Homo sapiens: one gene and its partners. The protein of the gene in region 2 interacts with the protein of the main gene of each other region in a pairwise test. Each region holds a gene or a part of one and is shown on either strand. Other genes may lie near its edges. The genes, in order: IPO11, KRT76 and LCA5L.

The links.
Region 1: the proteins of KRT76 (region 2) and IPO11 interact in binary tests that used the Homo sapiens proteins (3 or more experiments, as listed by UniProt).
Region 3: the proteins of KRT76 (region 2) and LCA5L interact in binary tests that used the Homo sapiens proteins (3 or more experiments, as listed by UniProt).

What each region holds. Positions count from the first base shown.
Region 1 is NC_000005.10:62,483,288-62,494,488, forward strand, and holds part of IPO11 (importin-11), read left to right. Parts: coding exon 1-6; intron 7-722; coding exon 723-875; intron 876-2,131; coding exon 2,132-2,175; intron 2,176-4,483; coding exon 4,484-4,574; intron 4,575-6,014; coding exon 6,015-6,062; intron 6,063-6,827; coding exon 6,828-6,933; intron 6,934-10,710; coding exon 10,711-10,837; intron 10,838-11,201. UniProt on the Homo sapiens protein: Functions in nuclear protein import as nuclear transport receptor. Serves as receptor for nuclear localization signals (NLS) in cargo substrates.
Region 2 is NC_000012.12:52,765,199-52,776,090, reverse strand, and holds the end of KRT76 (keratin, type II cytoskeletal 2 oral), read left to right. Parts: intron 1-488; coding exon 489-703; intron 704-2,448; coding exon 2,449-2,509; intron 2,510-3,212; coding exon 3,213-3,308; intron 3,309-3,832; coding exon 3,833-3,997; intron 3,998-4,094; coding exon 4,095-4,220; intron 4,221-4,871; coding exon 4,872-5,092; intron 5,093-6,507; coding exon 6,508-6,542; intron 6,543-6,980; coding exon 6,981-7,378; 3' UTR 7,379-7,936; downstream 7,937-10,892. UniProt on the Homo sapiens protein: Probably contributes to terminal cornification.
Region 3 is NC_000021.9:39,431,934-39,443,134, reverse strand, and holds part of LCA5L (lebercilin-like protein), read left to right. Parts: intron 1-3,361; exon of another isoform or gene 3,362-3,501; intron 3,502-4,416; exon of another isoform or gene 4,417-4,451; intron 4,452-6,967; exon of another isoform or gene 6,968-7,038; intron 7,039-7,561; 5' UTR 7,562-7,715; intron 7,716-11,201.

The DNA of each region.
Region 1 (11,201 bases), on a different chromosome or scaffold from region 2:
TTGAAGGTAATTCCTTTATTGGCAGTTTAAAAGAATTATTTTAATCTTAAGTGTGATATAATTGCTATAATTACAAACTTTTTAAAAAATGTCATTTTAGTCTGAAAAATAAATTGTTGCTGGGACATGAAAAAGATATAAGGATTATAGGCTTTAGTATGTTTATACTAGCTTTTAAAAACAACATAGTGCATTTAATAAGCCATTTTTTGTAGCACAAATTGGTTGAAGCTTAGGGACTTTAAGAATTAGGTACTATAGTCATCACTGCAGCTCATATTGTAGGGTGTATTCATTTGAACAAATAAAAGCTTTCTCTGACTTTATATAAAGTGTGATTGTTTCTAGACAGGTTAAATTGTTGTATTATTTGGAATTCATTCATATGCGTGTGTGCCAAGATGAATGAAGAAGTCTTGGTGGTGGGGGAGAGAGAAACACATGCACACACCCCCCACACCCTCTACATTATGAGGAAGTTATTTCAGTATGCCGTGATGGTATTGCATGGTAATATATAAGCTGTAATGCCAGAGGCAAGATTGATGTGAGTGTGTTGTAAGGAAAGAGTATCTTTGAGATTTGTTTATAATAAAAATGAAAATTTATACACAAGTGTATCTTCTTCCCTGAGAGTGTATTTTTTATTTATTTAAGTTACATAATCCAATGTAGCTACAATGTTTGGCTATACAATTAACTTGGAAATTTCATTTTTCTAGATAGCAGCCCTGAAACTCTTGAAGCCCATAAGATTAAGATGGCATTCTTCACATATCCTACTTTGACAGAGATATGTAGAAGATTAGTCTCTCATTATTTCCTATTAACTGAAGAAGAACTGACAATGTGGGAAGAAGACCCAGAAGGCTTTAGTAAGAATTAATTTTTTAGTGTTAGAATGACTTTTCTCCCCTTTCTATAAATATCTGTTTGAGTGATAGGTATAATATTGTATTTTCATACAGCACTTTTGATCTGGAAATCTTGGTGTTTTAAAATTAACTTACTCTTTCGTTGTTATCCATTAGAACAAATTGAGAAGCAGAAAATGAATGACTTATGCAAATATGTTGTAGAATTTTGTCCAGGAAAAGACCTTTTTAGTTTTTGGATTCCTTTACAAATATATCATGTAGTTTCAAACAAAAATATAAAATTAACTCTCTCTTACCCTGTCAGTTTCTATTTTGTGATTCATTCCATGTTATTTTTTATTTGTAGAAATTCTTGCAAAGAAATTTGGAGGTTTTTGATGAATAGTTTTTTTTTTTTTTTTGGACAGGACATCTTTATATCTGTTTGAATTTTAGTACTAGATAGATAAGTAGAATAAGTCTGTTGGGACCCTTGCTATAGAAAATCAAGGAATCATGTGTCTAATAAAGTACTTACTTGTATGTGAATTACTTAAGCTATGGTGGGACATAGGCTAGATTTTAGCCTCCCTTTTCTCTTTGGTTGTGTACCCTTGTGTAGTTACACGTTTCCTAATATTTTAAGAGTGCCCAAAAGTTTTTGTAATACTTATCTTCGCCATGCTTTTGGTTTTTAAAAGTAATTTTAGTTTTAATACAGGATTGTACTGTACAACATGTCTTTTCTTGTTTTTTTTTTTGCTTTTTTTGAAACATCTTTTTTCAATTTGCTTTCTTTATATAGTACATACAACATTGTAACATAAAGTGTTGAGTCCCTAAATTTTTAAGAGCCCTGAAGTATTTTTCTTTAAATTCAAGAAATTTATGGAGAGTGTGAGTAATCATTGTACCTAGTGAAACATGATTACTGTATTGAAATGAAATGATTCTCAGAATTCTAGTGATATTGGATCAGGTGATAGCAGATACCCTGGAAATGACAACTACTTTGAGCTTTTTTCCATAAAGAATTTTTATCGAAAATGAGAATGCTTATGGATATAGTAAGCACTTAATAGACGACTGTGAGATACACAACTGTGATCTGTAGCATATAGTAACAAAATCTGTGTAAGGCCTGTGTTCCCAAGGCTTTGCTCTTAATGTTATGTTTAAAAGAGTTCACAAAAATATTATACTGATGTTATTAAAATCTTTGTTTTCTAAACCAAGATGTTGAAAATGTCATTATTACATATTTTTAATTGCAGCAGTGGAAGAAACAGGAGGAGATTCTTGGAAATATAGTTTGAGGGTAAGTATTAATTGCAAGAAAAATTGATAGGGGAAAGCTTAATCTTTCTAAAGCTCTTAGTAGAGAATGACACTCTATTAAAGATTCCAGACATTTGCTGGGCATGGTGGCTCACACTTTAATCCTAGCACTTTGGGAAGCCAAGGTGGGAGGATCGCTTGAGGCCAGAAATTCAAGACCGGCCTGGTAAACATAGTGAGACCCTGTCTCTGCAAAAAGTAAAAAAAGGAAAAAAAAATTAGACCAGAGTGGTGGCGCATACCTGTAGTCCCAACTCTTCAGGAATCTGAGGCAGGAGGATTGTTTGAGCCCAGGAGGTTGAGGCTGCCGTGTGCCATGATGATGCCACTGCGTTCTAGCCTGGATTACAAAGCAAAACCCGTCTCTTAAAAAAAAAAAAAAAAAAATTAAAGATTCCCAACATTAAGTCAGACAGATAAGAAACTGTTTATAAGAAACTAAGAACTATATTCATATTAAATTATGACGTTTAATCTGAGTTTTTTTTCTTTTTTCTTTTTCTTTTTTTTTTTTTTTGAGACAGAATCTCACTCTGTTGCCCAGGCTGGAGTGCACTGGTGCATCTCGGCTCACTGCAAGCTCCGCCCCCTGGGTTCATGCCATTCTCCTGCCTCAGCCTCCCGAGTAGCTGGGAATACAGGCGCCCGCCACCACGCCCAGCTAATTTTTTGTTTATTTAGTAGAGACGGGGTTTCATCTTGTTAGCCAGGTTGGTCTCGATCTCCTGACCTCGTGAGCCACCCGCCTCGGCCTCCCTAAGTGCTGGGATTACAGGCGTGAGCCACTGTGCCTGGCCTTTTCTTTTGTTTAACTTGGGGTCGGAAAACAAATTTTTTCTTCATCTTTTAGTACATTGCTTGGGAAATAATTGTCATTACACAAATAGAAAATGTTTGTCAAACTGAAAGCTGCCATTCTTAAGCTAGAATTTTTTCCTTCTATATATTTCATTAGTAAAGTTTCTTTTGGTATGTTATTTCTCTTACCACTTCATGTGATTCTCAGAGACTAGCCCATTGCTTTCAGTTATAGGATACTTTTACAACGCATTTATTAATATGACAAATGTTTTGCCGTTACCAGATGTGATGTTTGAGCTCTTCTTTTTAAGATTTGCACTTACATAATTTACATAATTAGCTATTTGTCTTCTAAAAATGTTATCTTTAATGTTTTTAGATTCATAAACATACAGTTGTTAACCAGAGAGATTACTGGTGATTTTAAAACTTTAAAAAATTTCATTCCTTTAATTTTTAAAAGTTTCTTTTATGGAGAAGTTTAAACATATTAAAAAATAGAATAATATAATGAGCCCTTCATGATAAGCTAGTTTATTAGTTATCAACTCATGGCTACTTTAGCTTCCTGTAAACATCTCCCAGTGTTGATGGTTATCTGAGATGACACATCCTCTGACCATATTTCAGTGTGTATATTTATAATGTTCCTTTTAAAACACCACACAATACCTTAAAAATTTAATTAAAAAATTTAAATATTGTGAACGATCTAGTGATTAAATTCCTTTTTAAAATTTAAATAAAAAATTATTTTAAAAAATTTTTTGTGGGTACATAGTAGGTGTACATATTTATGGGGTACATGAGATGTTTTGATACCAGCATGCAATGTGAAATGATTCAGTACTTTTAAGAACCAAACAAATCATTTTTTTAAATGTAGCTAATGCTAATTTCTGTTACCGCTTGTGTTTGTTAAGAGAAAGGCTACTTTATTTGGCAAATTGGAGTTCCTGTTTTTGCTTATTATATCATTGCTAAGAAAATACATAATAGCTACTCGGGAGGCTGAAGCAGGGGAATCGCTTGAACCTGGGAGGTGGAGGTTGCAGTGAGCCGAAATCACACCACTGCACTCCAGCCTGGTGACAGAGTGAGACTGTGTCTCAAAAAAAAAAGAATCTTGGGTAGTCAGCCATTTATAGTACTGAGCTATAAATGAGTGGCTACAGAATGCTTTTTAAATTTAAGGTATGATTAATTTAAAATGTACACTTTGCTTGCCATAGTTTTAAGTTTTTGAATGCGTAATGACAAATAATTGAAATGAAATCAACTTTCTTTTATTAATTATAATTCGATTTTGTTTTCCTTTGTGTTGGTTATAAAAAAATGGTAACCTTACTTTTTTTTTTTAACAAATCAAAAGTTGGAAACATTTTCAAAGTTTTAGAATTTTAAGATTAAGTATTTGCTTTATTAAAGAATTAGTCAATATAGTATGCAACTGTTTTGATGAGAAATTTGTATTTTTCCCTCTCCAGCCATGCACTGAAGTATTATTTATAGATATATTCCATGAATATAATCAGACTCTTACTCCTGTACTTCTAGAAATGATGCAAACACTTCAAGGTAAGGCATATTTTGTGATTAACTTTGAGTTAATCTCTTTAACGTTTAGTTAAGAAATAGTCTGAGTGCCTACAATGCATACTGTACTGTTTCCTGGGTCATATAATAAATATGAATTTGAGAAAAACAATTTTAAAACTTATTATCTTCCAAGGGGGTGGCATTTGAGATAGGCCTTGAATTATAGTTTGGACGATGATAAATTTTCCTGTAGTAAATACAATAGAAGCAAAAGCAAAACAGTAGTCATACTGCTTGCAGAAAGTCTATCTGGAGCGTGTTGTGAGAAATAGTGAGAAAAGGTTAAAATAGTGTTAGCCTCTCTTAGAATGGTGGCAGTGGGAATGGAAATAATTGATTATGGATTTGAGAGAAAATGATGATGTAAATTTTTGACACTTGGTCATTACACTTTGTACACAAGTAACTAATTATCTGCCTATTAACTAACATTGATTTATGATTTCTGTCTTTTCTGCTAGACTGTAAGTCCTAGGGGCATTGATCACGTCTGTTTTGTTTATATTTTATTCCCAGTGCTGGGCATATTCAGTAACTATTGTTACTTGATTGACTTTTAGCAACCGATTGAATGTGCTAGGCAAGGAAAAGTGATCAAAGATGATCCTAAACTTTTGAGCCTTAATGACAAGGAAACAGTTACCTCATTAGAAGTGGTAGGAGATAGAGATATACTTTCGGAGTGCATGTATGTAAGGAGCCTTGGGAAAAGAAAAGAGGATCTTAAGGACAGAACCTGAGATTTTCACCTATAGGGATATGAGTAAATAAAAGCCTTGTAAAAATGCCAGGTGTAGTGGTGTATCCTAGAGAAGAGCATGTTGTCAGAATGAGTGTTGGCCAGGCATGGTGACTCACGCCTGTAATTCCAGCACTTTGGGAGGCTGAGGTGGGCAGATCACTTGAGCCCAGGAGTCCCAGACCAGCCTGGACAACATGGCAAAAACCTGTCGCTACAAAAATTAGGAAAATTAGCTGGGCCTGGTGGTTAGTACCTGTAGTCCTAGCTATTCAGAAGGCTGAGGTTGGAGGATCATTTGAGCGCAGGAGGATGAGGCTGCAGTGAACTGAGAAAACCTCACTCCACTGTACTCCAGCCTGGGTGACAAAGCAAGACCTTGTCTCAAAAAAAATAATTTTGTGGTATATAGCACATTAGCATTTTGTGGTGTATATTTTCTAGAATATTGCTTGTCATAACATTTTTCAAATATGCTATAATGGTTTTTAATCCTGTGTTCTCTAATGATAATCATAAAACTTAGACTTTCCCTTTGTACTTGTGTCCATTTTTGACACCATGAAATGTGTTATACTTAATTGAATTGGGAAACTAACAAATTGTGTTTAAATATAAATTTTTTAAAAAACTAGTTTTATTTGCTTTTACTGATACCTATTTATATATATATTTTTTAGGACCCACAAATGTGGAAGATATGAATGCACTGTTAATCAAAGATGCTGGTATGTTAAACTTAAGTGATTTAGAAGCATTTATTTATTCAGTAGATGGAGAGTCTGTTTTGTGGTAGATTTTGTGCTGAGGGTGTTGAGATACAAGAGTAACTAAAATACAGGAACAATCTGATTGGGGAGATAACCAAGTAAACAGATAATGTATTATAATAATACTATACAGGATAGTTAATGCTAAAGTAGGTGATGATCACCAGATAGTTTGGTGTGTCTAAGGAAAGATTCCCAAAGAAGTGTAATGGAAGAACACAAGGATAAGTAGGAGTTACACGTGTGAGGAGGTGGTGATGGAAAGAGGGTGTTGCATTCCAGGGAGATGGAGCAATAAGTACAAAGACTTGAAGGAAAGAGGAGGAAGCACAGTTAGAATTTGAATTGTGACTATTTTGGTTTAACTGGAACATTGGGGTTAAAGGTTGAGTTGAGGCTGGAGAGAGTTAAGTAGGGACCAGATCATAAAATATTACATCCATTTTAGAAGCAGGCATTATTTTATAATTTTTATAGTTGGACTTAAATATTTTAGAATGAATTGAATTATCTGTTTGAAAGTAGTAAGGAATATTTAGGAAAAACATGAAGTAAAATAGTGTTTCTAAAATAAATTATTTCTTCTACTTAAATTATTTCTACTTAAATAATTTCCCTGATTAGCATATTGTGTGTTTCCTTTAATTAACATATGTTTCATACACTCATTTGCAGATCTGATATCTGAAACCTTTAATTTTTTTTCTTAAATTTTCTTCTCAGTGTATAATGCTGTTGGATTAGCTGCTTATGAGCTCTTTGACAGTGTTGATTTTGATCAGTGGTTTAAAAACCAGCTTCTTCCAGAATTACAAGTCATTCACAATAGGCAAGTATAAAATTTTATATTTATTATACACTTACTTTACCTTATTTATTTTATTAATGAAGACAGGAAGGCATTAAAATGGCTTACAATTTAAAAAATGCAATCGTATAAGTTAGGTAATGTCTTATGTGGAAAGGAATAAGAATTTTGACATCTAGGAAGTATTTGATATATCAGGTAGTTTGCAGGAGAAAAGGAGGACTTTATGCAAAGATGAGGGAGGATGGAGGTCTCTGAGTTCAAGAAACTATGCCTAAGAAAAAGACAGTTCGAAACTTAGCAGGATGTATGCCTAGTGTCAGAAGTAGCCTAATCAAAGTAACATCTGTGAAAGATGAATGTCTTGGGATCACATAATGCATACTGCAAGTCTCTGGGGAGACGGTAGAGTAGGATATAGAGACATCATGGCAAAAATATTTGAATACCCTTTCTAAGTTCTAATTGAGGTACCTAATTAAATAGTACAGATTCATATTACATTTAGTAATATGAATTATGAAATGAATTAATTTAGTACATTTAATAGCACATTTGCCCAATTCTATTTTTTTTGAAATAGTCTCATTTTGTCACCCAGCCTGGAGTGCAGTGGTGCAATCTCAGCTCACTGCAACCTCCACCTCCCAGGTCCAAGCGATTCTTGTGCCTCAGTCTCCTGAGTAGCAGGGATTACAGGCGCATGCCACCACACCTGGCCAGCCCAATTCTTACGTTTTATATACATTTAAGCACTTGTCTACTTAAATTTTAGGTATTGAATGCATAAAATGAAAGGAAAAACCTCTTTCATAGTTTATAAAATTATTTCTTAGTTTAAAATTGGAGAATTTGAAAAAATTCTAAGGGGCTTTTTTCTTAATTTGAAGGATACACTTCTACTGATTCACTTCAGTATACCTGGGGCCTATCAGAATACTTAGCATATAGTCATAGATAGTTAATATTTGTTGACTAAACTAATGAATGCATAGGTCACATTTAGAGCCACAGAATTTGTAGAGCTGGAGATACTCTAAAAGTAATTCTTAACAGTAAGTAGCTGTTTATCTCTTCAGTTATTCAATCATTTATTCAGTTAACATATATTTTTAACACTTGGAATTTGCCATGTCCTATAGGCGGTGTTAAATAAAATAGACTCTGACTTAGTCTCAGGGAGCTAGTGAGCCTTTGATGGAGAGAAAGCTTTCATTGGCGAAACAAATGTGCAGTTTAGTTGTCCTTAAACCCTAGAGGCTATTTAGTGTAAGACCTTCACTGTCCAGTGCAGAAGCTCCCTACGTGTAGCTATTGAGCACTTGAAATGTGCTTAGTGCAACTGAGGCAACAACTTTCCAATTTTAATTAATTTAAATTTAAAATTTAAAGCCATGTAAAATATTTATTGATTACATGTTGAAATGATATTTTGGATATATTGGGATATGTAAAAATATTAATAAGTTTTTTTTTTTTTTTTTGAGATGGAGTCTTGCTCTGTTGCCCAGGCTGTAGTGCAGTGGCGCGATCTCGACTCACTGCAAGCTCTGCCTCCCGGGTTCATGCCGTTCTCCTGCCTCAGCCTCCCCAGTAGCTGGGACTACAGGTGCCCGCCACCATGCCCGGCTAATTTTTTTGTATTTTTTTTTAGTAGAGACGAGGTTTCACTGTGTTAGCCAGGATGATCTCGATCTCCTGACCTCGTGATCTGCCCGCCTTGGCCTCCCAAAGAATAAGATTTTGTTTCTTTTCTCTTATAATGTGGGTACTAAAAAATTAAAATAACATATGTGGCCTGCATTATATTTCTAATGGACAAAGCTGATGTAGACCAGTGTTTCTCAAACTTTAATGTACATATGAGTCACCTGGTAATCTTGTTAAAGTTTAGGTTTTGACTTAGTAGGTCTGGGAAAAATCAAGCAATGCACACATTAAATAGCAAAGTGATCTATACTTTTACTTCTGTTTGGATGTGTCTATGAGTTTGGAATTTTACCTTTCTGAGTTTCATATTCTTTATCTGGAACAGAGTCTAATATGGTCTTAGTCCCAAAATTGATGGTTCTTTGGTGCTTTTACCTCACTCTACACAAGTTGTTACTTCTGCCTCTGTCACTTGGTTCAAACAGTTTCTGTCCCTTGAAATGACATTTTTCCACCCTTTGGCTCCAATATTGTTTATCTCAAAGACTTGCTCAGATTCCGTCTGTCTCTGCCCATTTCTTCTCTTCCTTTTCTAAAGTCCTAGTACACTACTTTGTGTTTTTAAATTCCTTTAGGTGTGTTATAAACTTCTTGGGGGCAGGGAATACTTACATACTTTTTTTTGTAACTTTATTTATGTTATTTAATTTTTGAGATGGGGTCTCACTTTGTCACCCAGGCTAGAGTGCAGTGCCATGATGTTGGCCCACTGCAATCTCTGCTTCCTGGGCTCAAGTGATCCTCCCACCTCTGCCTCCTGAGCAGCTGGGACCACGATGTGTGCCACCATGCCCAGCTATTTTTGTGTAGTTTTGGTAGGGTTTTATCATATTGGCCAGGCTGGTCTCAAACTCCTGAGCTCAAGCCATCTGCCCACCTCAGCCTCCCAAATGCTGGGATTACAGGTGTAAGCCACTGCACCCGGCCCAGTTTTTGCAACTTTAATGAGCAGTTTTTTCCTGTGTGCTTGATCATCTTTTAAAATTGCAATTTTTTGGGAAAAAAAAAAGTGTTTCATTTATACCCAGAAATATTTATCATCTTGCCACTAAAATTTACATAATATCAAAAAGGTACTTCATGAGTGAAATTCTTGGACACAAATGTTTTGAACTGCATGATTTTTCTCCTTACCTGAACTTTGATTTCTTTTAGCGAAGATGATGAGAGAAAGAAAGAAATGTATATATGTGCTACTGTAAATGTTTTGCCAGTGTTAATATATGTTATTTTGGTAATCTGAGTCACATTCTGTTATTGTGTACCTCTTACAAAATTAGCTTAGTTGAAATCACAAAATTTATATGAAAGTTTTATATAAGCCTAGAAGTTTCTTACATTGTTCTGAAAATAATCTTCATAGTATTAACAGAATTGGAGTAGAAAATTACATACAGGAGCTTCTTTATTATTATTTTTGGGGACCTTTCCAGTTTTAGAGTTTGGGGCATTGCCACTGTTTTTGGTTACTTGAGCTAAAACCAAATGGATTTGGTTTTTATGAAACATACCTACATTGCGGTTCTTTAAGATAAAAGAGTCAGGATTACAACATATATGCCTAGGAATTTTTAAGTACTAAAAGTTTTAATAATATTTATTTAGATCAAGACTTCATTGTTAATATTTTGTACTGTGGTACATTTAGAAGTAGGCTTTAAGCTTTTTTTTTTTTTTGACAGAGCCTTGATCTGTTGCCTAGGCTGGAGTGCAGTGGCACAATCTTGGCTTATTGCCAACCTCTGTCTCTTGGGTTTCAAGGGATTCTCATGCCTCAGACTTCCAAGAAGCTGGGACCACAGGTGCATGCCACCACGCCCTGCTAATTTTTGTATTTTTAGTAGAGATGGGGTTTCACCATGTTGCCCAGATTGGTCTTCAACTCCTGGCCTCAAGTGATTTGCCCTCCTTGGCATTCCAAAGTGCTGCGATTATAAGCATGAGCCAGCACACCTGCTTTTAAGCTTTTATATTAAAAATGCAGATTGCATTCTTACTACATTTTAGATTTAAATGATAAATTATACTAAAAGAAATAGACCTCTTAAAATATTTAACATTTTAATTTCATGATTTTTTCCTGTTTAGGTATAAGCCATTGCGACGCAGGGTGATTTGGCTCATCGGTCAGTGGATTTCTGTGAAATTCAAGTCTGACTTAAGACCCATGCTTTATGAAGCAATCTGTAACTTGCTTCAAGATCAAGATTTAGTGGTATGTTTCTTAAGTGCCTTAAAAGAGTTAGTTTTTAAAGTTTCATCTGTGCAAATCATCAAGTTCACAACAGTTTATGTCTTTTCTTTATGATGTTTATGGCCTTTCACTGCACTAGTTATTCCTTGGTGAGCAGTTTGATTTGAGGGTAGAAAATCTTTTGATTCTTGTTTGCCCTTCCCATTACTAGTCATTGAAAAAAAAATTAAGCTCTACTATTATAAAGTAATTTATAATTTCTTAGAAAAAAAGGCAGTTTTAAAAAATCCCTTTATAGCTTACATATTCTTTTTAAAAATCAGGATAGACTTTGGCATTGAAATAGCATCATAATTTATTTCATCTTTACTGTTGATTCTTTGTC
Region 2 (10,892 bases):
AGAAATGTTAGACCTCATTGACTGTATTCACTGCCTTTATGGAGCTGAAAAAAGCTTACATCTAAAAAACAATGACAAACTTTATTTGTGCTTACCTCCTTCAGTGGTATTCTGAAGGATCCCTATAGACCCAGGACAGTCCTGGGTTTGATTCTTAGCTTTGTCACTCAGTAGACTTGTCACTTTGGGAAACTTAAACTCTTTGAGTCTCAGTTTCCTTATCTACAAAATGGGGATCACAGCAACTCCTTTATAGGTGGTTGTGAGGATTAAATGTGACGGAAATACATGAAAATAACAGGTAAGGCATAATCACTCAACAAATTCTAGCTCTCCCTTTGCTAAATCTTCATCCTTCCCAAATTAAAAAACAGGGGAAATTGTAGATTGAAGAACTGGGTTCCTTCTCCACAGTTCTACATTTGGGATGGGCAGCCCCACATGCCCAACTCAAGGGGCTGACTCCTTTTCTCCCCTCTTTCATGCAGGTGCGGTTCCTGGAACAGCAGAACAAGGTCCTGGAGACCAAGTGGGAACTGCTCCAGCAGCAGACCACAGGCTCAGGGCCCAGCAGCCTGGAGCCTTGTTTTGAATCCTACATCAGCTTCCTATGCAAGCAGCTAGATTCACTTCTAGGGGAGAGGGGGAACCTGGAGGGAGAGCTGAAAAGCATGCAGGACCTGGTGGAAGACTTCAAAAAGAAGTGAGGGCTCCTCCTGGGAAGTTTCCCCTTCTGGGGAATTAGCAGGGAGGTGTGGTCCTAATTTGGGATTTCAACTGTTCCCAACTGTGCCTTCAGTCAATACTCTGGGATGGATTTATTGAGTGAAACATGACAAAGCAGAAGGGGGTGAAAGGGTGGGGACTGAGACTCCCATGTGGCTATGACACAGATTTCAGGCTCCAGATGGGCCCCCTCCTATTCCAGCCCAGAGGGACAAAAGAGTCCTCCCAGAGTTTAGAATCCTTTAGGATGGGGAGTCCGCCACACTTGACTGGACACAGGAATCACCTTGGATGCTTGTCAACAATGCGTATTCCTGTATTCCAGTCTTAGGTATTCTGAATCATAGGTGTGGACAGGCCCCAGGAGTGTGAGTGTTCCCCTAGCTCCTGGGGATTCTAGGCAGAGGTCCAGGGCTGCACTTGGTAAAGGCCTTTATCAGTGTGTCCCGTCCAATCTCCTGTTCTGCAGCTTTGGTTTGCCTCCTCCTCCACGTTCCAAGTTGCAGTCCATATCCGCTGAGGTCTGCAAGGAGCAAACTGGGCCTCTCAAGGTGGGAGGGAGCTCCCGACTTCCCCAGGGATCAGAACCCACAGGGACGGGCACACCTGCTCTGCAGAGGCCCTATTCCAATTCAACCACACAAACGTGGTGGGCACCCACTCTGTGGCAGGCTCTGTGCTGGGCTCTGGGAATTCAGTGGCAACTCAGATTCATATTCCCAAAAGAGATCCCAGAGACCTCTTTTCTCCTAGAGGAAAAAAAGAGGTCCTGCCTAGAGACCTCTTTTCTCCTAGAATCAGTCCAATTCCTCAAGCTTTATGAAATACAAACTCTTGGTAGTAGATTTTAGTCCTTAACAGGCAGGAATCCCACAACTTTGATGCATTCAGAAGGTATGAATTCTTTCTTAACTGAAATTCCTATAAGAAGTAACTGTAATGAAGGAAAACAGAAACTGAGGAAATAGGCAGAAATGCCCAATGAGAGCACACATTTCACTGGGTTCCATATGCACACATTGTGCTTTGCAAAGTCAATCAAAGAGCCTAGGCAAGTGGTCAGGCTCCTTGAAGTTTGCCCTCTCACTGACTGCCCATACCTCTGCCCATCACTGCATTTAGAGGGAAGAGGGCCAGGCAGTGCCCTGAGCTCTGAGAGGTCTCTGGACAGGACCAGCTACGTGATTTTCAGGCCTCAGTGCAAAATGATAATGCAGGAACCTAGTTACAAAATTATTAAGAATTTCAATCATGCCTGTAATCCCAGTACTTTGGGAGGCTGAGGAGGGAGAATCACTTGAGCCCAACAGTTCGAGACCAGCCTGGGCAACAAAGTGAGACCTTGTCTCTACTAAAAATTAAAAAATTGGCTGGACGTGGTGGTGCATGCCTCCAGTCCCAGCTATTTGGGAGTCTGAGGCAGGAGGATTGCTTGAGCCTGAGGGGTTGAGGCCACAGTGAGCCATGTTTGTGCCACTGCACTCCAGCCTAGGTGACAGGGTGAAACCTTGTCTCAGAAAAAAAAAAAAAAAAGAAAGAATGTCAATATGGTGCCAGCATTGAGCTAAGTGTGAGGACCCTGAGCCCAGGGTCCTGTGTAACTGCACGTGCCCATGAAGCTCGTCCTGTCTCTGCGCAGGTGAGGAGAGTGCCTGGAATCCTCACCTCTCTTTTTTACTTCTGAAATGCCAGTGTTCAAATGTGTGCCTCTTCTTGTTCCAGGTATGAAGATGAAATCAACAAACGCACTGCCGCAGAGAATGAGTTTGTGGGGCTCAAGAAGGTAGGTGAGCCTGGACCAGCATATCCAGGTTTCCTTTCTGGGAGCTGCCCCCATGGAGAGAGTGCACAGCCAGCTGTTCTGGGGCACAGGGACCTTATATTGTGTGTGGGATTGACACTTTTCCTTACATTTTTGGAAATGAAATGTTTCATGAAGGAAGCTGCTCTAAGTATATTACCATGGAAAGGTATGTTAAAATGTTACTGTGACTAATGAGCTGATTAGCAATGCGAACTAATAATGAGCCCTTTATGTGTAAGATTAATCAAGATTTTCAGCCTGCAAATGTACTCCAGATGCTATTAATAACAATCAACAAATACTTGTAGCATATTTAAACCAGTCATCGTAAAAGTGAAGTAGTGAGAATACCCTAATTTCTGTTCAGGAGGGTGGGATTTCTGGTACTATACAACCAAAGTCACATACATATTAGGTAAATATGATTTTTCTACCCTAAAATCAGATGGTTACTCTGTGCCTTATGGTTTGTATTTTGTTAAAGTATTGGGGCTTGATATGTCAAGCAAGGAAAAGGAAGAAAGCCATTTTGATCTTCCTTATTTTAAAAGGGAAGATGAGAAGTCACAATTAGGAGGAGAGCTGGGGGCGGAACAAAGACGAGACATGAGGGCTTAGGAAAGAGCCACTGGGTGGGAGGGGAACAGAGGGTCATTCTCTGGGTTTCTGACCTCCTCTGCAGGATGTGGATGCGGCTTTCATGAACAAGGTGGAGCTGCAGGCCAAAGTGGACAGCCTGACAGATGAAGTCAGCTTCCTGAGGACCCTCTATGAGATGGTGATTCCTTGGTTTGCAAGCTGCAGAACCTTCCTGTCTGATTCTTCCCAAGCATAACTTTAGGGGACAGCCAAACAGCACAACACTCACAAAACCAGCAATGGGGCTCAGGACTCAGCTCCACCCCACCTGGGAAATGTTAACTGAGCTTCTTCAGTCTGCATAGACCTGGCCCACAGGTCCTCAGGCCATTTTGCTCTGCACCTTCTCTCTGGCTTCTATACCCATGTCATAGTTGGCTTCTTCATAATACTCCTCCCTGCTGGGGGCCCATGGAAACTTACACAATAAGACTCATTGGCTGATACTTTCAGGCTGATAGCCTAATTATATTGCATATTTTGCATATTTCCTTTAGCCTTGTTGTCTAACATCCTTTAGGCTGTAGCCAGGCCTAAAATGTGAGCTTATTTTTCCAACTGATCCACCTCTAGCCCCATCCTTGGGATATCTCCGCTAGTAGAGGATTCCCAGCATCCCCTGGTCCAGGCGATGGTAAGAGTAACTATCCATGTTTCCTGCAGGAGCTGTCCCAGATGCAAAGCCATGCCAGTGACACGTCTGTGGTTCTGTCCATGGACAACAACCGCTGCCTGGACCTGGGCAGCATCATTGCCGAGGTCCGCGCCCAGTATGAGGAGATTGCCCAGAGGAGCAAGTCTGAAGCTGAGGCCCTGTACCAGACCAAGGTGGGAACCCTCCCTGTGTCCTTGGATCCTGATGACCTTCATTGAGAATGTGCCAACACTTTGCAAAAGCCACGTTGATTGGTTTTTCCTCTGTCAGCTTGGGGAGCTGCAGACCACAGCTGGCAGGCATGGGGATGACCTGAGGAACACCAAGAGTGAGATCATGGAGCTCAACAGGATGATCCAGAGGCTACGGGCTGAGATTGAAAATGTCAAGAAGCAGGTGGGGCTGGGTTTAACGGAGAGATCCCAGAGGTCTTCTGGGCCCCGGAGAGAAGCAGCATAAGCTCTGCTCCTCTGCTACATGCTCTCTCCATCCTTTCATGGTGTCACATGTGGGATAGCGCAGTGTCTGGGAAACTCTGTTCTCCCAGATGTTTTTGTTGGAGGTTGAACTTCTTGGAAAGCTCACTCAAGAAAGATGTTTGTTTATTCTAGTTTGCCTAACAAATCTTGCAACTGCAGTTCTGGACTTAAACACTCAGATGTCAGCAGGATCTGCCCTTAGTGAAGCTGTTTCTCACACCTTTCACATAACCTTGATGGCTGCTCTGTATCATTGGAATGAAGTGATTAGGCAAGAGAGTTTTTAACAGTCTTGCAAAAAAGATTAGGGACTAACCAGACCACTACTACCTGTAACAGCATAGGAAAGCAAATTAGTGCTCCCTTTCTTGATGAGCCGCAAGTTGATTTCAATGGGACAAAGATGAATTAACCAACTGCAAAACTGACTTCTTTTCTCTGAGCATGCTCCATTGGGATTTCTAAGGAAAGGGAGGAAGGGATGCAGGATGTGGGGGAAGAGATCTACTCCTAGTAAGGATCAAGTGTTTGTTTCCGGGTCACTATGCTAATTGATTTTCTACCTCAGAATGCCAACCTGCAGACGGCAATTGCAGAGGCTGAGCAGCGTGGAGAGATGGCCCTCAAGGACGCCAATGCCAAGCTCCAAGACTTGCAGACTGCCCTACAGAAGGCTAAGGATGACCTGGCTCGGCTCCTGCGTGACTACCAGGAGCTGATGAACGTCAAGCTGGCCCTGGATGTGGAGATTGCCACCTACCGCAAGCTGCTGGAGGGAGAGGAGTGCAGGTGAGGGGCCATGGGATCACCATTCTCCAGATATGGTTTTAGAGTGACCTTTGATAATGTGGAAAGGGGGCAAGATGATAAGGAGAGGAACACTAAGACAAAGGGCAAGGAGTGTCTTGAATGACAGAGTCAAGGGTTCAAGCCCCACTATTTTATGTCCATCAAGATCATCCAACTCTCAAATGTTTAATGGACATCAATATCATGTTACATATCTCTATTGATCTTCACTATGTGCAATGTATGAGGAAAGTTCTTTGGCATTATGACAAGTGATAGACCAGTGCTGTCCACTGGAACTTTTTGAGATGATGAAAATTTTCTATTCTTGTGCTGTCCAATACAGTAGCCACTGGCCACTTGAGCCCTGGAAATGTGGCTAGTGCAACCGAGAAACACAGTTTTACATTTAATTTAATTTTAATTAACTTAAATAGCATCATGTGGCTACTGGCTACCATACTGGAAAGCTCAATATAGACAGTCCTACAAGCTCCACCCCTGAAGCTGAGTCCATATGGGGAGACGGTTGATACATCCATGCTCTTGGAAAATAATACAGCATTAAGCAGCAGATAAAGTCTTAGCAAGTGTTTATCAAATGCTAAAGGAGTGTCAAGAATTGAGAGATCTTTCTGCTGAGTTTCTGCCCAATGCATCATGTGCTCAGGGAGTAGCTAACCCTCTGTCCTTGGGTAGCTCCCAATCTGATGGAGGAAGCAGAACCCAAGTATGAGAAGGAAAGTGAGAGTGAAGGTGATGTCAAGTGTACTAGGAGTCATGGGATGAGGAGGGAATGGTCAACACCAGTGGGCACACATTGGCAAGATATGCAGACCCAATCCATATCTTCTCAGATATGTGGATGTGCCTGCTCCATTAACAAGAATAAGACACAGGAAGATGGACAGTGTAGGTGGTACATTTCAAATCCATCCTGCATTGAGTTTCAGCCCCTCCCATATTTTCTCCACCCTGAACAACCCCAATCATGTCACCACCACCCCAGGAGGGCCCATTGTGGAAGCCTTCTTGGAAAGGCAGAATTGGAAATAAAAAATCCAGGGCTGGGTAGAGAAGAATGAAAGGGCATGCTAAGGTGGGAAGATGGTCTTAGCAGGGGATGAGAAGTGGGGACAGGCCAATCAAGGCAGAGCTGGGCATCAAGTAGTTTGCCTAGAGAAGATAATCTCTAAGGGCTAAGGGGAAAAGTGTGGGAATTCTCAACTCTTGAAGCAGCCCCCTTTTCTGGGGAGATATGGTCATGGAAACAGACTTGGAATAGGCTTTCTTCTTGCAGGAGCTTGACCCCTAGTGGGGCAAATGGGAGGGCGTGGCTCCCAAAGTTGTGAACTCTCAACTCTTTGGTTATTGACTCATAACAGAAAGAATTCACCTCTCCTCTTCCTTTTCAGGATGTCTGGAGAATGTCAGAGTGCCGTGTGCATTTGTAAGTAGCCCATTCAAAAAACCCTCTCCCTGGGTTGTAAAAGGGCAGCTAGAAACAACCTCACTGACTGACCTTCAGGCAAGAAGGCCTGTTCCATCCAAGGAAGTCAGGCCACCTGACAGCGTCTAGGATCTCAGGCCATGGCCACATGCTCTGCCCCTAGTGTAAGCTGACAACCTCTCAGGCCAAAGCTAAAGCCCCTCTGGTTTGGGGAGTGGCCTAGGTTGGAAAACCAGAAATTTCTGTAGATTTCTGGTTCCTGTTCTTGGGAGAAGGCACTAGAGGCCAGGCTCACTCTCATGGTTTGCAAACTGAGGCATTAGATAAGTTAGCATCTTTCTCGAAGTCACATGGCCAAGCAGGGTGGGGATGTAATACAGTCCTTGGCTTCCAGTTTCCCAGGCCCTTTGCCTGAATTGTGTGCCTGTTGTCTTGTAGCAGTGGTCAGCAATGTCACCAGCACAAGTGGCAGCTCTGGCAGTAGCCGTGGAGTTTTTGGAGGGGTCAGTGGCAGTGGCAGTGGTGGCTACAAAGGCGGCAGCAGCAGCAGCAGCAGCAGTGGCTATGGAGTCAGTGGCGGCAGCGGCAGTGGCTATGGAGGGGTCAGCAGTGGCAGCACTGGGGGCAGGGGTAGCAGCGGGAGCTACCAGAGCAGCAGTAGTGGGAGCAGGCTCGGCGGTGCAGGTAGCATCTCCGTGAGCCACAGTGGAATGGGCTCCAGCTCTGGCAGCATCCAGACTTCTGGAGGAAGTGGCTACAAGTCTGGTGGTGGAGGCAGCACCAGTATCCGCTTCTCCCAGACCACGAGCTCAAGCCAGCATAGCTCCACCAAGTGATCTACTGTTCCAAATCTCTATAACCACCTGCTTCCCACTCAGCCTGCAATAGTGTTTCCCACTCTCTGCTTGGCATCAATAGATGCATAAGGGTCAACCACATTTTTCCTCAAGTTCCCTGGAGAAGAAGCTGAACTCCTGGTTTCTCCATCCCCATGACCTTCCCAGGGCCATGGAGGTCCTGCTGCTGGTCTGGGATGATGATGCCCCTGGAAACCTTCCTGCAATGGCCCCTTACTTTGGACAGCAACCCCTGAGCCCAAGCCAGTTTTGGCCTTCACAGCCTGGCCTGTTCCCACTCTGGCCCATCTCCCTTTCTTACTGGGAGTTGGAGATTTGAAGCCAGTCATCTCAGCACTGTCTGAGGAGGGCAGAGCCATGGGTTCTGTGCTGGAGGGTGCACGGCCAAGATCTCCAGACTGCTGGTTCCCAGGGAACCCTCCCTACATCTGGGCTTCAGATCCTGACTCCCTTCTGTCCCCTAATTCCCTGAGCTGTAGATCCTCTGGTGATGAGTATGTTGCACTTTCTTTTCTCAATAAATTGCACTGAACTTCACATTCTGGTGTTGGTCTTTTATTCCAGGAGTCACAGAATAGATCACGACCCAAAAGTGATGAGAAATCAGGTGGGGGTGATGGTCTTCCAGGAATTTAAAAGTGGGTATAAAGGCCACTGAATAGTCTTGGCTTCTCCACCTATTTGGTTAGGTTCCCGTGATAGGTCTGCCCAGGAGTATGTTGTTTAGGGGAAACCTTCCCCACTCCCAAGAAAGTCATCCCATCCTTCCTCCAGCCTCTGAGCAGGCCTCTGCAATTCAGTCTTGGAAGAAGTGAGTTCTGCAGTTCATCAAGGAAACAGATTCCACTGGGACTTCAGTTCCTTTGTTCCATCCCCATCCCAGCCAGACACAGAAGCAATCCTCTTTCTGCAAACACAGCTCTTGGAATCTGAAGGGGTCAATACATAACATCTTTTCCTTGCATAGGTTCTGAGCCAATTAAAAAATAAGACAAATGAATGAGCAGATGGAGGGTCAATATTGCCTTTATTACCAAGAAAGCAGATACTGGAGCGTGTGTCTTTTTACCTCGGATGGAAAGGGTTTCTCCTATCACAGGACCTCAGGATTAGGCCAGATTTTCCACCTGGGCAGGGGCAGCCTAGGGCCACTGTGGCCTTCCCTATGGGGTCAGATCCCTCATAGTCGAGGGAGAGAACAAGAGAGCAGAATATAATCTTACTGTGGACAGCCAGATCCTAAGAGATGGAGGGGCATTGCTCTGCAAACTCAACTCTTCCTTCCAAACTCATTGATCAGGTAAGAGAGTGGGTGGGAGTGTTAAACTAGTAAAACTCACTCCAGATGGATGTAAAATTAGGAACAGGGATGATGTGTGCCTGCCCTCACACCAGCGTTTACCAGCCATTCTCAGAAAGCTGAAACCCAAACCCAGGGGGCACAGGGGTAATGAGACAGTCACTGAGAGAAACCAGGAAAATTGGGGGCCTCAGGGAGATGACATTTAGGATCTGTGATTTTTCCCCACCCTGTCCCCCAACCAATGCCCTCTGCATGCCATTAATCATGGCAAAATACTAGTTTGTAAGTCACTGTAGACCATGTGTTACTGCCCATAAGACAGGTCAGGGATGGAATAACAAGAGGGCATCTGTACATTTGTCTGATGTCCAAGGGGAGTGCCAGGGCCTGGTCTCCGTATTTCTGAGTCTTAGCTCAGCCCATCTAATCTCTAAAGTACAGTAGCCCTGGCCTCAAGAATTGGAGAAGAGGGCATTTTAAAGTTCCTATACCTGAATGATCAATAAATCCTTGCCCATCTTTTCATGGCTCACAAGCCGGAGGTAGTGCCCTTTCCACTTTCCCTTGGCCTAGCTCTGGGTACTTTGAGCAGGGGCAGGCAGTTCTGAATTGCTGCTCTTACTGGCCTTTTAAGAGACGCTGCAAGAAACATAATCGGTTGTCTCCCCAACTCCCCACAGGAAAACACCCTGGGAGCTCTGCTCCATGTGTTGCTTAACTTAATGGGAAGAGGCTGACTGTCTTGAGTCAACACAACTTCTCATAAGACAGAAGCAGCAGGGTTTAGAGACATCTGCTTCAGTCTCTTTATCCATCTGCTCCATGTGTGTTGATAGCTGGGTCCTGGGTACTAATCTCAGGGCCCTGCCTAGCAGGTGGGGAACTGAGTGAAAGTTTGGTGGTCAATTGAAAGGATGAATAGAGATGAATAAGGAGAGTGGGCCCCGCATCCCCTTAGCCTGAATGGAAGATGAGATAGGTCACACTCCAAGGTAGGACAGAGTGAAAAGTTTACAGTGAGGGCCTAGGAACCTCTTTTGAACTCTTGTGAGGAGGAATGGTGGAGGGGGCTACCAAGGAAGGTAATGAAAGACTTAAGGATACCTAGAATTAAAGGAAGGGGCCTATTTAGAAAGGCACATTGTAGAAGAAGCCTGGAGCAGGCCTGGGAAGGAAAGAGACTCTGGGCAATATGGAGGAAGGGCAAGGGGTCAGGGCTCAGCTATCCAGACCAAATCCCAGGAGAACTCCAGGACTAGTATCATCTTCCATGTTCTTGACACAGTGGCACTAAATCATGTGCCAGTGGAGCACATGGTGAAGCTCCAGGGTGAAGGCATCATGTCTGAGGCCAGGATAGGGGCTGGGGAGAATAGAACATTTTTAAGACTGTGGGAGACTGGCAATCTTGGGCTGTCTCAGCCTTGCAGAATCCCTCAATCCATCGCCCATCTGAAGGCAGAACTGGGGCAGCTCTTTGCATTTGAAGGCAGCCAGGGTAAGTAGAGTAGACATTTACCTGTGTGGAATGGTCAAAAGGGTGACAGGAGCCCTTTGGAATTGATACTTGAAATCCTACCAGTTGCCTTTAGAATTAAACAATCTGTCTCCTAGTGGCAACTACTTTGTTGTTTTCCATCCTTTATTCTTTACCCTTTACTCTTCTCCCTCTCCTTCTAGATATCTTTTACTAAATTATAAAAGCAACACACATTTATAGCAAAAAATGCATAAAGTTTTAGCAAATTAAAAGAAGATTAAGATCATCTATGATTCTACCATCCTGACATTTTCCTACATTCATGCATGTGCATGCTTACACACATATTCATAGAAATATATAGAATATTTTACAATGGGGTCTTAACAATACATTCTGCTTTTTAACTTGATTTTTCACGTAATGTACTGTGGAATTTATCCATTTAGTTATTCAACAACTATTAATAGACTGAATGCCTACCATTTTCTAGCTACTGTGCCAGGCCCAAGGATACAGGGGAGAACACATATAGTTTCTGCCCTCACAGAATTTATAATCTAGCTGATAAGAAATTTACCAAATAGCATCTTTCCACAACAGCAAATGTAGAAGGAGATCATAATTTTCTTTTTCAGTGCAGATTCTTATTTTTACTTAAAAAACAAAATCAAAGGTACACATTAGGAACTATAAACAATTATGTGTTT
Region 3 (11,201 bases), on a different chromosome or scaffold from region 2:
AAACAAAAACCAGGAATGAGACTTTTTCAGGCTTTGTCTTGCTCAATCTCTCAGCGGCATCTGAAACTGCTGCCCCCATTTCACTCTACAAACACTGTCTTCCCTTGGCTTCTGTGACCATCCCTGACTCTTCTGCTTTTCCTGCTGCCATTCTGGCTCACCCTCCTCTCCCAGGCTCCTTAATATTGGAGATTCTCAAAGCTCGGCATCTGTTCCCATTTTATTCTCCATTGCGCCCCTTCATCTAGCACAAGGCACAGATTCACACGCACAGCTTTTAAGTTCCAGCCCTGTGCTCTTGACTCCTACCTTTCTCCAACTTGACCCTTTCTCAGCTAGACTCGTACGTTCAGCTAGCTGCGTGACAGTGTTTCTTAATACCACTCAGTCTCCTCCAATTCAACATGCACAAAACCAAACAACCCCACTTCCCAACCCCAGCTGGAACCTCTTCCGTTGTACCTAGGATTCCTCCTTGACCCTTATCACACCCCAACACCCAGTGAATCCTTAAGCCCAGGTGAGGTTGTCTCCTGGGCATCTTTCACATCTCTTCATTGTCGTGGACACCCAAGTGCAAACCACCACCTTCATTCAGCCTGCCGCAGTCCTGTACCAGCTTGTCTCCCCACATTCCCTCTGGCTTTTCTCGATTCTTCACCCTGCAGCCAGAGTAACCTTCAGAAGGCAGAGCTGATTATGCCACCCCTCCCGCCTCCCTCTTTTGCCTACAGTTAGCTTCCCATTGCCCTTGGATTAATGATCCACATCATAAACACGCCTTCCGAAGGCCCTGCAGCTGTTCACCCCCGCCTGCGTCTCAAGACTCATCTGAAACCGCTGGCCCTTCTCACTGGGCTTCAGCCACATGGGCCTCCTCCACCCACCAGGCCTTGGCATTCTTTCCTCTCTGTCTGCATTGTTTTTCCCTCCTCCCTCTCATCCTCTCTTGCCTAATTAGTTCCCACTGACCCTTCCTATCTCAACTCAGACAGTACTTCTACAGGGATAACTTCCCTGATCGCTGTCAGGATCAGGTTTCTTTATCTTCACAGAGTTGTATCTCCTTCCTTGAAGACACTCTGGACAGTCACTATTATGATTAGTTCATTACTGACATAAGGCCCACAAAAATAGAAACATTTGCTGTTTGTGTTCATCATTGTATCTCCACACCCCACATAGTGCCTGGCACATAGTAAGCACTCAAATGGGTGCTGAAAGAATGAATGAAATGAACATTCTAATATGTAAGAGATACTAAGCGCCGTGTGTTTTAATACAATTCTATTAAAATAGAATGAAAATCTAGTAAAAATAATCAGGCAAACACTGAAAATTAAAAAGAATGTTGTGTCAGGGTAGCTAAAAACGGGTACTTGTGTAAAGATTTGTAGCCCTTTACTCAGTGCAGTACATTGCACTTGCCACCACTTGGTGGAAGTAGAGAGGCACGGGTTCTTATCCTGAAGGTGACTAGGGTGTCAGTCGGGTAGTGAATTCAAACATTTGTTCTAAAATATATAAAGTTGTTAAATTACCAAAACCTACATAGCATAGCTAGTCTGTAACCATCCAAACTTTGAACGTGGCACATTTTCATGTTATCAAATAAACTTGAAATTGCTTATATATATAGGTATATTTCATTTATGGATTTTAGTGCTAGACTGGACCTTATATGTCACTGAGAAATCACCTAATTTCTTGCCTTAGACATTTGAGGCCTAATAGCTAGTTGTATTGGCAGAACTGGGAACATACCTTTTTTCTTCCACAGTATACTGCCTCTCAATCAGTGTTTTGTTCGTTTGGTTTTTTTTGGTTTTGAAACAGGGTCCCACTCCATCCCTCAGGCTGGAATGTAGTTGTGCGATCACAGCTCACTGCATCACTGCGGCCTTGACTTCCTGGGCTCAGCCTCCTGAGTGGCTGGGACTGTCACACCCGGCTAATTTTTTTTTAGGAACAGGGTCTCACCATGTTGCCCAGGCTGCTCTCAAACTCCCGGGCCCAAGTGATCTGCCCACCTCAGCCTCCCAAAGTGCTGGGATTACAGGTGTGAGCCACCACGCCAGGCCAATCAGTGTTAAGAATCATAACCTCCCTTTGTCAATGTTTAGAGTGACTCGCAAAATTTCTGAAGCAAAAAATTGGGACACATAAAAGTAGATAAAGTGTTTGAAATAATGTTCTTGAAAACCGTAAGATATTGATTATCTTAGCTATATAATACCACATTTATAAGCTTAGAGAAGAGCTTTTCTGTTCATTTAACATTTTTGTCAAAGAGTTTAGAGTTTAAGCCTTTCATTCAATAGGAAGACCCTGAACTTGGGTCTGGCTGATGTTTTTTTCTAACCAGACAGGCTGTGCTTGTGGCAGAAAGACCACAGAAGTGGTGCTGTGATCTTCTCAAGTGCCCATGGACACTAGTGAATGTCACCTGTCCCACCCTGGTGACATGAACCTTGATTACCTGTTCAAGCACAAATCTGCCAGTTTTCTCCACAGCCACCTGTTTTCCCTTTGCATTTGATTAGTGCTTTGGGAAGAGATACTCTGACGTGGTAAATCCCATTTTGTTTTGTTTTTTTTTGAGACAGGGTCTCACTCTTGTCCGGGCTGGAGTGCAGTGTTGGCATGATCAAATTCACTGCAGCCTCAGCCTCCCAAGTAGCTGGGACCATAGGTGTGTACCACCACACCCAGCTAATTTGTTTTGTTTTGTTTTTTATAGAGATGGCATCTCCCTGTGTTGCTCAGGCTGATGTATCCTCCTTATTGGTATTGATGTTCAAATTGCCCTATCTTTGACTAGTGGGAGCTTCTTAAAGCTGGCTCCTGTGCCCTTTTGATACACACCAGCCTTTCTTCTCTTTGCCTGCCTCAGGCTTAGGATCATCCATTTCTCCAAGGAACCCCAATTCATTATAGCAGAGAATGGTATTTAGTGGAGAATGGTACACAGTGTACTCATTGTTTCTGGGGTGTCGTTGATTCTAGGCCCTCTCAGCAGAGTTAGGGGAAAAATACACGCACACATATACATACATATGTATATACACATACACATACATTTATAGATATATATGCACATAGATCTGTAACTGTATATAACTCCTTGTGTGTGTATGTGTGTGTATTTGAACCTAGCATTTCTCATTCTAATCCAACATTTCAGGGTTCTTTCCAGCCTTCCCTCTTTCAGACAGTAAGAAATTTGACCCCATGATTCTAAATATATTTACTTATGTCCTCAGTTAATTTGTTAGCTCTAATTAATTTCCTAACTTTGCCAGCTACCTGACGCCTCTTTGTCACTCCTCCCCCTTACAACTACTTCACTCTGCTTTCTCAGCCTTCAGCCATGCTTCTGCCACTGCCTCTGCAGGAAAGCCACCTGCTTTAAAAAAAAGTCTTCATGGAGTGCTTATGAGAGGGTCGGCTGTTTTCTCCAGCTCATTTTTCCAAAGCAAACAATCCCACCAGCTATCTCAGGTTGGTCATCTTGTTCCTAGATATAGTCCAAGGCAAGGTAAAGCAAGCTGGTTTCTGGAACAATTAAGATATTTCCCCAAAACGTTTGAACTCACCATCTTCTCTGACTTCTTGAAATTTATAACAGTGCAATTCATTTGCATTTAATAGCCTGCTTTTAGTCTCATTTTAATTTGTGATGTTTTTCAAGGTACCTGTATTAGTTCTGTATTGCTGCTATAACAAATTACCACAAACTCAGTGGCTTCAAACAAATTTATTTTCTTACAGCTCTGGAGGTCAGAAGTCTGAAATGAGTCTTAAGGGGCTAAAGTTAGGATGTCAGCAGGACTGATTCCTTCTAGAGGATCCAAGGGAGGATCATTCCCTTCCCTTTTCTAACTTCTAGAAAAGCCTGTATTCTGTGGCATGTGACCCCTTCTTCCATCTTGAAAGCCAGCAGCGTCGTGTCTTCTCCCTCTGACTCTGCTTCTGTGATCACAGAGCCTTCTCACTCTGACCCCTCCTGTGTCCTTCTTAGACAGGCCCATGTGATTACATTAGGTCCACATGGATAATCTGGGATAACTCAAGATAATCTTCCCACCTCAAGACCTGAAACTGATCACATCTGCAAAGTCCCTTTTGCTATATATAGTAACACAGGTTCTAGGGATTAGGACATGGACATCCTTAGGGGACCATTATTCAGCCTACCACTGTACCAAATGAAAGTCTTAAATCTTAAAAATGAGAATTTAACTCTATTTTACATGTAGACATTGATTGGAAAATGAACGTATCTTAGAGAACTTTACATATCTACACATACACAGATATGCTTTATTTTTTATAATATGCATTATCAGTATTCATCACAGTTATAATAACAATAATATGTTTTATCTGATTCTTTAATTTTTGCCATTCTGGTAGATGAAAAGCGGAATCTAATTTGCATTTCATTATGAGTAAGTTCGAACATCTTTTTATATAACTCTTGGTTTTCTGTGTTTCTGTAATGTGTTTATGCTGTAATGCATTCATATCTTTTGCCCATTTTACTAATGGATTATTTTAAGAGGTCTCTGCAAATTAAGGAAATTAGGTCTTTGTCATATGTATTGAAAATCTTTTTTCCAGTTTGTAAGATGCCTTTGAACTTTATTATTTTTTTAATTATAAGGAAGTTTTATATTTTTATGCAGTTATTTTTATCAGTTGTTTCCTTTATGGTTCTAGGCTTTATGTTTTTCCACACTCTGTGTTTTCTTTTAATAATTTTTTAAACATTTACATTTTGAACCCATCTAACCGTCATTTTAGTGTAAGAAATGCAATAAGAATCTGCTTTTGTTTTGATTTCCAGGTAGATTCTAGCCTACCTCTCATCATTTACTGAAGTCCACTTTCTCTACCTTTATCTTAGACTAGGTTACCATATGTATTTGTTTGTGTTTCTGTTTCTGAACTCTTTATTCCAGAATATTGTTCTGTCAAAGCATTAGTATCAGGCTATTTTAGTGACTGTAGTTTTCTATCTCAGTATCTGATCAAAGTAGTCCCTTCTCATCATTTTTGTTCATATTTCTTTGTATTCTTTCATATTTATTTCTCTATGTGAATTTTGTATCGTTTGGTCAAATTTCACAAAATTACTCAGTATTTCATTGAGAATACATTGATCATGTAGATTAAATTAGGGAGAATTTACAGCTTTATAATCTGTGTCCTTTTGATATAAGAACAAAATGTGTCCTTCACTTAAATATTTTATTTCAGTAGTTTTAAAGTTTCCTTCATATTATTCGTAGTAAACTTAGATGTTTTAAATATTTGGATATAGTAAGTGGGGTATGTTTCATCTATTTTCTAAGTCGTTTTATTTTGCATAGAGGAAAGATTATTTTTAGGGCCAGGCACACCTATAATTCCAGCACTTTGGGAGGCCAAAGTGGGCAGATTTCTTGAGCCAAGGAGTTTGAGACTAGCCTGGGCAACATGGTGAAATCCCATCTCTACAAAAACTTGGCCAGGCATGGTGGCACGTGCCTGTAGTCCCAGCTACCCGGGAGACTGAGGTGGGAGGATCACCTGAACCCAGGAGGTTGAGGCTGCAGTGAGCTGTGATCACGCTACTGCACTCCAGTCTGGGCAGTGGAGTGAGACCCTGTCTCAAAAAAAAGATTAATTTTATAGCCATTTTGTAACCTATGGTGTCAATTTAATTCTCTTGATAGTGTTTTATAAGTATATAATCATTTCATTTCATTTCCACATAATAACTTGCCTCTTCTTTTCCAATATTTAGACCTAGTACCTCCAGAACAATATTAATGAACAACAGTGATAGTAGGCATTTCTTATCTTAATTCTTACATCAGTGTAAATTAATGTTTCACCATTAAGCTTAAAGCTGTTTTTTTGTTTGAGATAGGTATTTATCACATTGGGAAAGCTTTCATTTGGAGCTTTTCAGATTGGGTTAGCAGTAATGAGAAGTTTTTTCAGGAGTAATGGATATGAAGAGAGGAATTAAGCACAGAGGCATCCGGAACATTAATTTATTTGATCAATATTTATTGGACACTTAATATTCTCAGGAACTCCTCTAGGCACTGAGGATATAGCAATAGACAAAGGAGCCAGAATGCATGCCTTGTGAAGCATGCAGTTAGTGGGGAAGCCAGGCTACAAACAGGCTGAGGAAGTAAAATGGGTGTTAGGTTAGATAGTATGTGTTAAAGAGAAAAAATGAAATGGGGAAGGCAATAGGAAATGTTGAGAATGGATAAGAAAAGAGGGAAAATTTGCATGCTGAGTAAGTTTTTTTTCCCAAGAGGCAGGACTGGTTAAGAATATAATTACTGGCCGGGTGCTGTGGCCCGGATCATGCCTGTAATCCCAGCACTTTGGGAGGCCAAGGCAGGTGGATCACTTGAGTCTAGGAGTTCTAGACCAGCCTGGGCAACATAGTAAAATCCCGTCTCTGCAAAAATAAAAAAATTAGTTGGGCATGGTGACACATGCCTGTAGTCCCAGCTACTTGAAAAGCTGAGGCAGGAGGATCGCGTGAGCCCAGGAGGTCGAGACTGCAGTGAGCTGAGCTAACACCACTGCACTCCAGCCTGGATGACACAGTGAGACTCCATCTCAAAAAATATGTATGTAATTACCTACCCATAGAATAATTTCAGCCAGAAACACAGATGTAATCATTTGAATTAAATTATCCTTATGAATTAATTATAAATTTACTACTGAATTTTTTTCATTATATGCGTGTAACAAAATATTTACTTTTAAGAATTAGGATTTTCTAGTTGTATTATTAACCAAGAATCTGATAATTCATGAAAGTATGGAACCAGAATACATTTTAGTATATAATACTAAATCAGTCACTGTCTCTGCTTCTAAAATACAATCCAGTGCTTACAATTAGCTACCAAGAGGGTCGTCTTTTTGTTATTTTTATTGTTGACAGGCAAGAAACACATAATCCAAAAACTTTAATTATTTATGTTCAACTCTGTACTGGAAAGAAAGAGCAGGCAGGTGAGCCACAAGATCTTTTCTGCCAAAAACTTGAAAAGGCACTGCTGTGTATGGCTCCTTCAAATCTTACTTCAACATCACTGTTTGATAATCACATCCAAGAATTTCCCAATCAACTGCCAACAGGTGATTCACTTTCATAGAGAAAAAGCCGCCTGTGGCCAGGTGCAGTAGCTCACACCTGTAATCCCAGCACTTTGGGAGGCCAAGGTGAGTAGATCACTTGAGGTCAGGAGTTTGAGACCAGCCTGGCCAACATGGTAAAACCCCGTCTGTACTAAAAATACAAAAAAATTAGCCGGGCATGGTGGCGGGCGCCTGTAATCCCAGCTACTCAGGAGGCTGAGGCAGGAGAATTGCTTGAACCTGGGAGGCAGAGGTTGCAGTGAGCCAAGACCACACCAATCCATAATACAAGGGAATATATATATATTAATTAAAACTGCTTCAAAACCTTATTCTTATTACATAAATATGTTTCTTTGTGAGATTGTAACATTTTCCTTTTGTAATACCATTTTAGGTTTTTTAAAATATATTCTTTCTTTAAAAAGAGACCAAAACCTGTCAAAAAAATACTACCGTGGAAAGCTCATAAATACTACAGTGTGAAGAACCCTGTGCTTATCTTCAGTTTATCATCAGACATCTTAGGGAAGTTTAATAAAGAACACCAGGTATGCAGTAATCACTTTCAAACATTTTAGTGTGTTTTATTTTCCATCTGCCTTGTTGCAAAAGCAGGAGAAAAGACACCTGACCGTTGTATTCAGAATGATTCAGACATATACCTTGATCTTGAACATTCTTATTTCTAATTCACTAATTAGATAAGCATAATATAGAAGTTTACTGTTCTTTTAAGTAGCCATCCCTTTCACCATAGTGCATTCCGGGAAAACGTAACCTCAACCAGATCAGATTTTTTCCATTAGAATAGTGTTTATAATTACTCATTGTGTTCCCGAGTCATAACAGCAAAGAAACAACTATAAACTCCATAATGATAGAGACATAATAAAATTATGCTTCATGTGCAGTAAAATAGGCACCACTATACTGTAAACTGTTCAAAATATAAATGCTGCCAAACTAAATCTGAACTATACTGTAAATTTGATACAAAAACTAGTGTAACTATAGTAGATATTAATTTTATAATTACTAACTTTGCCTATTTTAAGATCCTTTTGCCTTACCTTCTTCATAACCCCAGACCCTGGAAGACACTAAATAAATGTTCTTTGACTGAACATATTAATTAATTAAGAACATCAGTGGCCGGACATGGTGGGTCATGCCTGTAATCCTAGCACTTTGAGAGGCTGAGATGGGAGGATTGCTTGAGCCTAGGAGTTCAAGACCAGCCTGGGCAACATAGTGAGACCCTATCTCTTCAAAAACTAAAAATATTAGCCAGGCATGGTGGTATGTGCCTGTAATCCCAGCTAAATGAAAGGCTGAGGTGGGAGAACTGCTTGAGCCTAGGAGGTCAAGCCTGCAGTGAGCTGTGATCACACCACTGCACTCCAGTCTAGGCAACAGAGTAAGACCCCGTCTCAAAAGAAAGAACAGTAGGTGGTTGGTTTAAGGCCTGGATTTTTCAAAAATGCACCACATAATCAGAAATTTGTATGTGGAAACTACACTTTTTATTGATAACAATAGAGAAGTGTAGTGTATGTATATTAATATGAAGATTTCTGAAATAGTTTAATCAACTTAAAAGTACAGTTATAGGCCTGATACTAGTCATCAGTCAATTTTTAACAGGTCAGTGAGAAAACTGGTATTTAGCAGACTGAATATATGATCCTACTTGATACCTGCATTCAGGACACATTCATTGCCAACTATAGTAATAGCCAAGAATCAAACTGGGTTTTACTTTTGTTTACATTGCTGATAATGTCTCTCAGTCGCCATTTCATGGAAAAGAATAGAACTCACACAGTGCCAGGTGAACCCAAACATACCTGTATTGAGGTCATATAGGTAGAAATTTTAGGATGGTTCTGGAGTCCTGGGAATTCCAGAATGCTAGGAATATCCTGTCTCTTTGATGAGTATAATTTATGTACAAGTAACTCTTTTGGAAATTTACCTACCCTGCCAAGGCAGGAGAATTGGCAAAACTCTGTCTCTACAAAAAAAAAAAAAAAAAAAAAAGCTGGATGTGGTGGCATGGACCTGTAGTCCAGCTACTTGGGAGGCTGAGGAGGGAGGATCACTTGAACCCAGGAGGTGGAGGTTGCAGTGAGCCAAGATCGTGCCACTGCACTCCAGCCTGGGCAATAGAAGAAGACCCTCTCTCAAAAAAAAAAAAAAAAAGCTACAGTAACCAAAATAGTGTGGTATTGGTATGAATATAGAGAAACAGATCAGTAGAACAGTATAGAGAGCACAGAAATAGATCAACATATGAATATCTGGGTTTTTACAAAGATGCAAAGGCAATTGAGTGGGAAAAGGATAGTCTTTGCAACAAACGGTGCTGAAGCAATTAGATGCCCATATACCAAAAAATGAATTTTAATCCATAATAAGTAACTCAAAATGGATTACAGATTTAAAGTAAAACTTCTAGAAGAAAGAAAGGAGGATATCTTTGTGACCTCAGGTCATGCAAAAATTTCTTAGATACAGCACCAAAAGGATCTTTTTTTTTTTTTTTTTTTTTTTGAGACAGAGTTTCTTGTCACCCAGGTTGGAGTACAATGGCGCAATCTCAGCTCACTGCAACCTCCACCTCCTGGGTTCAAGCAATTCTCCTGCCTCAGCCTCCCAAGTAGCTGGGATTATAGGCGCCCGCCACCACGCCCAGCTAATTTTCTTATTTTTTGGTAGAGATGGGGTTTAAATTTGTTGGCCAGGCTGGTCACGAACTCCTGACCTCAGGCAATCCGCCTGTCTTGGCCTCCCAAAGTGCTGGGATTACAGGCATGAGCCACCGTGCCCGGCCAGGATCATTCTTCAAAGAACAAATTGATAATTGGGCTTCACCAAAATTAACAGTCTGCTCTTTAAAAGACATTTTTAAGAGAATGAAAAATCACAGATGAGGAGAAAATGTTTGCAAAGCATATATCTGATAAAGGATTTATATCCAGAATATTCACAGCAATTTTATTTGTAATAGCCCAAAACTGGAAATAGCTGAAATGTCTGTGAACAGATGAATAAACAAATTATGGTTTATACATACAATTGGAAACTACTCAGCAACTTAAAAACAAAACAAATGAACTACTGATATTGATGCACATAGTAACATGGATGAATCTCATAATAATAATGCTGAGTGAAAGAAGCCAACCAAATAAAAATACATACTGGATTATTCCATTTATATAAAACTCTATAAAATGCAAAATAATTGATAGTGACAAAAAAACAGGGTTTGCCTGGGTTGGGAGTGAGGCGCAGGGAAGGATGAGAGGAATTACAATGGGGTGCTGGGAGGCTTTGGGAGATTATGTGGTTGTGTTCACTGTCTTGATTGTGGTGATAGTTTCATGGGGATACACATTTCTAATCTTATCAAATGGTACTCTTACTAATTTTCTTTGATACCTCAATAAAAGAGGGTTAAAAATAAAGAATTGTATCCCAAAGGCTTAGGAATCAGTTGTGTTAAATATGTACGCTCAGTAAGCCAAATAAATTGACCTATTTGATACATTTTTTAAAATCTTCATTTTAAAATGTTAGCGAATCAGGTACAAAATTCATTTAAGTGTTATTATCATCTGGTCCCAGTTTTTCTTATGACCTCTTTTTGTCAAAGACTATGCCATTAATATTAAAAACAATTGTCTATTTGTTGTAGCAAAAAGAAGCATACTGAGTTTACCTAAAAGCCGATTTTACCTAAAAGCTGATTTTAGTGACACTGACATTAATAAGCTGTGATAAACACTGGGCCAGTCAGTTTATACACTGATCTTACCAAGTTGTAAATATATTATTTCAAAAGAATATAGCATCTAAATATACTCTATAAAGCATTCATGACAACTTTTAAATTTAGTAAGCTCCCAAAAATTCAGTGTCTTAGGATATGGATTGAAATTATGATTTTTGATTTTCAGATATTTTTGCCTATTTAAGACAAATCGGTGAACACAGCAATTAATCTGAAGTTGCTTGTAGCTTTTTTTACA